2 separate regions of the Homo sapiens genome follow, and region 1 is linked to region 2. Evidence: fine-mapped expression QTL. A gene starts in region 2. The other region holds a variant in brackets. All regions are shown on one strand. Distances are between the middles of the regions. Region 1 overlaps STK38L (serine/threonine kinase 38 like). Region 2 holds the start of STK38L (serine/threonine kinase 38 like).

Region 1 (4,397 bases), 46 kb before region 2:
TATGAGGTCATTTTAGATAAATATTTATGAACCTGAGGTCTTCAAAAAAGAAGGTAAATAGAAGATGAGGTTTCTTCCATCATAGGAAGTTGTAATGAGTTTTACTCCAAAATCGGAAGTGGATGTCAAGTAATGAAATATTACTTTTAGACTCTATATAATTTAGTAATGATTATGATGTTCTTTCCATTGTAGTTACACATACATGTATGTCTTGTTTAAAAACCAAATAAGGGCAAAATCTCCATCTATTTATCTTTGTAATGAAAGCATCGCAGTACCTGGCAAAGTGATGAGCACACAGTAGGCAGTCTGTAAGTGATGGTAACTCAACTCTAATGTAATAGATTTTAAATTATATGTGTGTTTCATATATAATAATTTCATTTGGGTTAAGAAATACAGAATCATTTGGTATTCTATTAGCCTTCAGAAATAAATCTTACTTAAGAAACACATTTGCAGAAAAAACAAAAATCCCACCCTTACTCATGATTATACAATATCTTGTATAGTTTAGCTTTAAAGATTAGCTTTAAAAACAAGATTAGCTTTAAAAACAAGATTAGCTTTAAAAACAAGAAAAATTTGTTTCCTTCTTACCAGACACAGACAGACTTTTAAAAATTTAAATTATACAAAACTAAGAAGTGATCAAATTATTACAAAGAATGGTCTAGATGACTGGCACTTATTGTATTGCAAATGTATTCCTTTAATGGATTTAACACTGTTCTTTTTGTTTTATTAAAGCCCTTTCTTTGGCCAGAAAAAGAACAGGATACAATTTGCAAGTCTAGAATTCCTGGACTGATAAAAACAACACAAGGTGCCCTTGAATTTCCTGTTCACGTGTGTTTTCTCCAGACTGCTCTATTCATTAATGGAGACACTACCAATAGTTAAGTCCAACATTCTTTTTTATCAAGCCTGGGGAAAGGAGATAACAAATCTGGCACTCAGGCCATTTATAAATAGATGTGGTATCTCCAACCATTTACCATCAAATTTCTAAAGGAAGAAAATAGAACTGCTTTACCTGGCTGTAAAACAAATTATTTAACTGGTGATTTCACCTTAGTTTTCACATACTGCATTTCAGAGGAAGGAGTGTCCTTAATGCTACTATATTGCCTTGTAGTATAAAAATTCGCCTAAATTCAATTCACTAGTTGCAATCATAATGCCCTAGGCTACAATAAGTCCTCAGATTGTACACTGTATAAACTGGGTCCCTAACGAAAGGGCAGCTACAGCTTCTTTCCTCTCTGAGGCACAGTCTAAAATGCAAGAAATTCATAGGTGAAGTTTCAAATCCCAGCATTAACTTTCACTAATTGTTTTATTTTCAACCAACATTTATTGCAGATATATACCATGTTGACTGTATGAAGTGCTGAGAATAAGACTGATAAAACACAGTTCCGGCCCTTAGGGAGTTCATGATCTTATGGAGACACAAAGTAGGGAGAAATCAGTGCTTCAAGAGGAAGGATAATCAAAGGTTTAATACAGAAGGTGATGCCTGAACTGAATCTTGGAGGGGATGGGGCTATAGTAAGAGTTCACCAGTCAGATGGACTCAGAGGAGGAAGAGCTGTAAGGCATGAAATACACTGACACACTTAAGCATACCGATAGACTGAGTATATTTGATTAAATGGCAGAAGATGAAGGTAGAAATAAGGAACTTTTTTGTCATGTTAAAAATTATCCTGAACATAAATGGGAATCACTCAAGGCTTTTAATTTAGTGAAAACCTAACAGCCATTAAAGAATATTTATTGAGTTTTTACCCAAGTACCCAGAATTCTTCTAAGAATATTACATTCTTAGAAGCATTTAATTCTCCTAACCAGCCCTCAAATCCTATCTGATTTGCACTTCGGATAGATTATGCT[G/A]GTACAGGGAGGATGGCCAAAAGGCTGGAAGTACAGATCAGACTAGAGGAAGTAAATCTGCTCAGGAGGCTTAATAATGAATAGTCAGAGATTACAACCTGGTAGCCTGCAGAATCATTTTGTTAGGCTTGTGCTACAATTTAGAAAGTAGAAGGTTTCACATGAAAATCCAGGTTTCTGGTTTCTCCTGAAAAGTCTGATCTGTCCACAATGAGCTCTGTCAGCTCCACAATGACAGCTGGAGCAGAGCTGCAGCCGGCCCCTTACAATACAACATCCCACCCGTCCACCAACTCTCCATTCCCACGTGCCCAGACTCATTCACTTTTTATTACCCACATTTTATTACCCACCTGCTTCCTTTACAGCACATTTGAGATTACAGAATAGTGAGGGACTAATTAAGATAGTAGCAGAAGTGAAGAAGCCTCAGTTAGTCAGCTGGAAAGACTAAAGTCTCTAATTATCTCTAAGTTTCAGATGTGGATGACTGGGTAAATGATCAGTAAGGACAGAAAGTATAAGAAAAGCTAGTTTAAGGCTAGTTTAAGAAAGTTAGTTTAAGGCTGATCCTGTCTGAGTTATTTAACCTGAGTCAGGATCCACATTTCTAAAATGGAGATCATAAATGCCAACCTTATAAGGTTGATATGACGCTTTGATGGTGGCAGAGCACAGGATGAAAGGCCAGATTGCCTGGGTCTGAATTTTGGTGCAGCCATTCACTAGCTGTGTCACTTTAGGCAAATTAAACTTTAAACTTTCTGTGTGTCAGTTTCCTGTTAAATAAATATAATAATAGCCACCTTGTGTGCATGCTTATTATGATAATATAAGACTTAAGATAATTCTAAAAGTTAGTACTTGTAAAAGGACTGAGATACGTCATGTGTTTGATAAATCAATAAATCAGTAAAAAATATTTTTAAAGTATCTCCTAGCACATATTAATGCTCAAAAATTATTAATTTTCTTCCCTTCCCTGCTCAATCTTCCTGCTCATCCCTCCTGCCTTGGGCTGCTGCCATTGTCAGTTAGTTTGTAAATTTAATCTCTAATAGACATTCCCTCTCTCTTCTGATCTTAGCCTACTTCTTTGACAAATTAGATTACTTCTAATGGAGAGGGGAGAGAAATGTAGCAAAAAGAAATATTTAAAGTAAAAAAAGAACTCTTGGTAGAAGCCTTACTAGAAGTTAGTAGTGATTTGGGGTAGAACTAGAGGTAGAGGTGTTCCAGGGAAGAGCTAACCCTTTCTCTCACAAAAGAGTGATTCTCATGAGGCAACACACACCAATTTATTTGTAATCTCTTTACTGTATCTGCTGTTAATAGCTTTTGTTTTTATTTAGCGTGGCCCTCTCCATGTGGCGTATGCCCTGATCACTAGACCAGAGGAATGCATTTCATAAACAGACACCCTTGTCTTTGCTCCTTCTGTGAATCATAAGGTTGGTGATGATGGCACAGTGGTGCTGAACTCAACATTAGCATTTTCATTTTCAAAACTGTTTTCGAAATAGTTTTCCTATGCACAAAAATATAGTTCAATGGTTGAGTACCTGAAAGCTTATTTGGCTGTAGTAATGATGTTCATGGCAGAATACCTGAGTTTATTGGTCCAAATAATTACTAAAAATCCCTCTGAACTTCATTTTTTTTTAAAACTTGCAATGAGAAGGGGAAAGTGTTTATAAACCAAATGCAAACAATTAAGAGGTAAATTTACCAAAGCAGCAATTTTATTTAAAATTCTATTTACCGATCTTAATGTTTAGATAAACTATCACCCTGTCTTTCTCAAAAACATTCAGAAAGAAGCAGTCTATTCTTAAAATATTTATAAAATTTAATTGTTCTATTGCTATATGCCTATCTGGTAGTGCACTAGATTTTGTCTGCAAAAAAATGTTCAGCTGAATCAAGTCATAGTTAACTTTAAAAAATTACCTCAGCAGAAATGCCACATAACTTCAAATACTTATAATCTAGCACCTCGATGGGAAAAAAAAATCAATGCCAACTTTTAGATAGTATGGGCATCCCTAAAAGAATTTTAAATCAGTTTCTATTACTGGCACACACACGAGCACATACAGAAAAATATTTGTCTTGATTGATATAAAAGAGAAAAAAAGCCACAATTTGCAAGAAGGGGGAGTAAATGGCAGGGGGGAGGGAGATGATGGGTAACGAAGGTGAGGGGAGACCAGAGTGAGTATGTCAACATTATTTGTAAAGGAGGAAATATTCAGAGGTAAAACAAAATGAAAACAACTGGGAAAAAACAAATTTATAAATATATATATAAAATGATATATCTTTATGTTATTCATATTTAATTATAAAATATATACAGAAATTTATAGAATTTATAAAGATGAATTAAGTGGCCTAGGGAAACTTTTGGAGAGCATGAGAGCATGGTTGGGGGAAAGACAGATATTACAGTGATCTAGAGAATTTGGGGCCAACAGGTTTAAACTATGGCTCTG
Region 2 (4,397 bases):
GGGAAGAAGAGGAGGATATGCTTCATGTTTATAAACTAACCAAAGACAGATTTTTAATTTTTTAAAAAAGTTATGTCTTAAAAGCTTGCTTTCATTATTTCATTCAAAAAGACCATGGTGCTTTTAATATAAAAATACAGAAGCATAATTTCTGCATATGTCAAGTCTAACCTAATCATAACTTGCCAATCTGCTGATTTTAATGTAATCCTAAGGATGCTAGACAACAATATGCTTGCTTGATTCACCTGACACTATTTACATAAAATAAAAGCATTTTAACAATACATCGAGATGCAAATCTTTCTGGCTCTGATTTGTGCCCTTTCTCCCTCTTAACAAAAAGTGCCACACACACACAAAAGAGCCTCCAACTTATCCTGGATCACTGGGGAGGCACTTTCTAAGGTGCGTTATCCAATTTCACTAACACAATGATGCTCTCCTTACTTTAAGAGAACAGAACTTTTCTGAAAGCAAACAGCTGAACTGAGTCCATTGCTTTGTTATCATTTTTTAGGAAGTCCAATTTCTCCTTTGTTCTTACAGTGTCCTACCTTTAGAAATCAAGTTTTCAGCATAAAAACTAACAAGGACATCTATTTGTTGGCACAAATCATCTCAGTCTCCATTCTTTGACTTATTTTAAAACAAACTCAAGAGCAAATGGCTAGAGAAAAACTGCTTCTATTTAATGTGTGTTTTCTAAGTCTAATTTTTTCATTCCTAGTGGCAAGGCCTTTCAAAAGAGTACAAAAACTACACCCAACTTTGCTTCTCATTCTAAACACATCACAACCAAATGGGAAACATTATCAGCCATCTTAACAAGGAGAAAACAAAGCTAAGTGAGGTCAAACCAAAACATTTTTTAATTCATTGTACCTACCTATTTTGAGATCAGGATTTTTCAGATGGAAGTAGTTTGATGAACTTATGCAATAAAATTATGTAATATCATAATTTAACATAATATTTTAGACTAACTTCTCTCTCCTCAAATAGTCACAAGGGTGGCTAATTCACATACAATACCTCTCAGCCACTGGGGAGAGAGTATAATAAACTTAATTGTTTTACATATCCTGAGGCACAGAGAGAAAGGCCAATCAAATTCAAAGAGGTTTACAGTACCTTATATACATATATGATTGAGACAAAGAACTTTCAAGAATCTGTACTGAGGAAGCAAAAATGGGCTTAAGTACAATAGGCCCTGCCTTAAAGTAGAGAGACCGGTCAAACGTAAGCCCCAGCGCCAAAAAAGACAAGGTCTCACTCATCAATCCCCATCTTACAATCAAGAGGCAGAACTTAAATCACTTAAAGCTGTTTTTTCAGATTTGAGCAGTAAAATAAGCTAATAGGCCATTTCCGATTAAGTGGCTTCTCTCAAAACTTATCACAAGTTATGTGAAATGGGTAAAAGTGTTGGTTCTGCATTTTATCAAGTGAGAAACAATAGCATCCTACTTTTGGACAAGCCACTACTTCCAGAGCCACTAGCCCTCCCCCCACCTCCCACTTCTTTTTATATCATTCCTCCAAACTTAGAACCCGAAAAGCTATTCCACAAAACAAAAGCAGCACCAGTAAAAGGGGAGGCCACTGGTTTTGAAAATAAAGTTTGTTCTTTTGCTGTCAACCTGGCAACTTTTTAAAGGTGAAACGTGCCCTACTCAATCGGTTATACTCTTTTCTACTCCCACACCAAATAACCACTCGTTCGACCTCGATACTAAAGGTGAAAAAAGGAGTGGGAGAAATGATTTTGAAAGGAAGGGGCTACGGGTGCAATGGTAAAGACAGATTCTAAGACTGGTTTTGAGCACTCCGTGGCTTCTAGGAGCTGGGAGGCTTTCCTGAGTCTGTCTTGAGAAATGTTTGGCAATCTGACGCATCAGTTTTTAGGAACGGTACACAAACAGCCCCCACAATTGAAGAGCCATGCTTCGGATCCTGGCTCTGGGTGACATCGGCTGGAGGGCACGGGACGGGAGCGCTGGGGCTACCCGGAGAGGATCCGCGACATTTGTTATTGTTTGTGAAGCCCAGGCGGGGACCCGGAGCGGAGTGCTCGGGGGCCGGGGAGTGGAAGGAGAAAGGAGCAGAGGACAAAGATTCCTCCCCGGGTGCGAGGCTCCCTCTCTGGACACATGGGGCCAGTATCACCCCGGGGAATAAGAGGGCCAAGGCCGTCGCCGCAGGTTCCCCGGAGACATTTCCAGCCCCAGAATTAGCCCGGCTTTCCCTGGACACCCAAAGACACCTAAAATCTCCTCCTGCTCCTGCTCGCAGAGTTGGGGCTGGCGCGGCGAGCTCGGGCCCTCAGCCGAGCGCTACATCCGCGAACTCACCTGCCTCCGGTCGCGCCCGCGGCCGGCTCAGCCTCCGCACGGACCGCAGCCGGCCGGGCGCCCGTCAGCTCCCTTCTCCCCGCTCCGCCCTCGCCCCGCCCCCGGGAGGTGGGACCCGCGGCCTCGCCGGAATCTCAGGGCGGCCTCCCTGAACTCTCGCGAGCCTTGCCTCCTCGGCTTCTCGGTGGCTGGGTCGGTCCGACTCGCCCTGACGTCATACGCACCACAGCCGGAAGTAGCCTTCTGTCGTCAACGCCCGTCTTCCCGGCCCCACCCATCTCCGCCTGGTGAAGGCCAGACTGGTTTTGAGGGAGTTGACTGAACTGTCGCCACTTCCCCTCTCACCAGCCTCACCTCACTGCCGTTTTTACGCCAAACCTGTTCAGGCCTCTCTTGAGAGTGGCCTAATGTGTTGCGACATTAGTCACATTCTAAATGTCATCCGAATTTTTCAAACAGTGCAATGCAAAGAATGTTAGAAATGGAAAGAGAGAATTCACGCATTTTTCAGATTGGGAAACAGTTGTCAACAAAGATGGATCAGCTAAGTTGCTCAGTCGGTAGCTGTGGGGACTCGAAGCCACCCAGGTTCCTTGACGCTTCCATTTCACCATGAGGGGACTCCAGAGACTGGAGAGGAACCAGGATTTGTAAATGCCACAAAAAATACATTAAAAACCTGTTTGAGTTTTCTTGGAAAATCTAAAATAACTACAGTACTGGCCTGCTTTATCAGTAGGATCTGAGAATTGTGCAGAAGAGCACTCCCCTATAGGATGACCCAAAAGGGACAACTTTGGGAAGGTTGATGCAATTTGCGTCTGGGGACAAAACTGGCCTTTGGGAAAGCCAAATGAGAGAATGACTCCCAATTATTGTTGGCAAGTTTATCCTCAATATGAGTATTGGAGGTCTTATAAAATATTCTTAGCTTTTAGCTTACTGAGACAACGTATGAAGCTGGTACTGTGCTTGCAAAAACTATCACTTAGAAATGCCACCTGTCATCTTTAGGTTTCCCAAGAGCAGGTGACACGAGCAAAACACCTAGGAAAGAAGCATTACCTCATTTCTCTTTCTTACACTGTGCTTTTTCATACATAGCTTAGTAGTGGGAAAAGCTCTAGTTTGGTAATTAGTGTATTTTTGGGGAGATCAGCTCCACTTATATGGTCATTTTGAAACTCAAATGACAGTTGTCATATACAAGCATAGGAGGTTTAATTGTGATCAGACAAGCTTGACAGGCCTATACACCCTTCTCCCTGTACTGCACGCATACACATACCATTCAAATGCTACGATAAGATTGAGAACAGTGTATGGTTTGTTCCACAGCAAATTTATGTCTTCAAATGTGCCATACTAGAGTAATATGAACTAGTATAGAGTAGCAGTCTAGGTTAATATGGGATAGCCTAAGACTTTGACCTCTAGTTCCTAAATTCTCCTAAATTGAGACCATTGTAAACAAATTTCCCTGGGAAGTTGTTGAAAGTACCTCAACTGAAACAAATTAGAGCTATGAACCAGAATTTTGGTGGTCTATGGACCCCTTTTCAAAACAGTGTTCTTAAATGCATAAACTACCTAGGGTTACAAAGGAAATTGATAATGTTAACATACAGTTACCAAAATACTAAAAAGTGAGTTTGTAATATAATTATGTGGTAAGTAGTAGTAGCATCTAAGATGGCTGCCAATGATCCACGCCTTCTAGTATTCCTGCCTTCTGTAATTCCCTTCTCTAGTAACTTAGTTCTTAAAAAGGAAATATAGCAAAAGTGATTAGGATATCATTTCCGTGATTAGGTTACAAAAATATTCTGGGCTCCATCTTGCTTGTCCTTGCTCTCTCACTTGCTCGCTTTCATGGAAGCCAGCTGCTGTCTTGTGACCTGCCTTACAGAGAAGCCCACATGGCAAGGAACTGAGAGAGATCCAGTCAACAGCCACCAAGGAATTCAGGCCCCCAGTCCAACAACCTGTGATGAACTGAATACTGCCAATAATCATGTAAGTAAGCTTGGAAGTAGATTC

What was found. PIP is the estimated chance that this variant, and not a neighbour inherited with it, causes the effect.
Region 1: its variant is the best candidate, but not a certain one, in a credible set for the expression of STK38L in pancreas (GTEx, PIP 0.66).

What each region holds. Positions count from the first base shown.
Region 1 is chr12:27,288,525-27,292,921 of GRCh38, reverse strand. The region is part of intron 1 of STK38L (serine/threonine kinase 38 like); the gene reads right to left. LOC124902905 (a long non-coding RNA gene) reads left to right here. Exons shown (of 3, transcript XR_007063254.1): 1 at 1-1,518; 2 at 3,255-3,353. Among named protein-coding and RNA genes, the nearest start is that of BMAL2, 42 kb to the left of the region's middle. The variant G/A (reference allele first, on the strand shown) is at 1,903.
Region 2 is chr12:27,242,293-27,246,689 of GRCh38, reverse strand. It overlaps STK38L (serine/threonine kinase 38 like), which reads right to left and starts at 2,404. Exons shown (of 14, transcript NM_015000.4): 1 at 2,358-2,404. RefSeq lists enhancers at 996-1,045, 3,634-3,693 and a silencer at 2,336-2,575.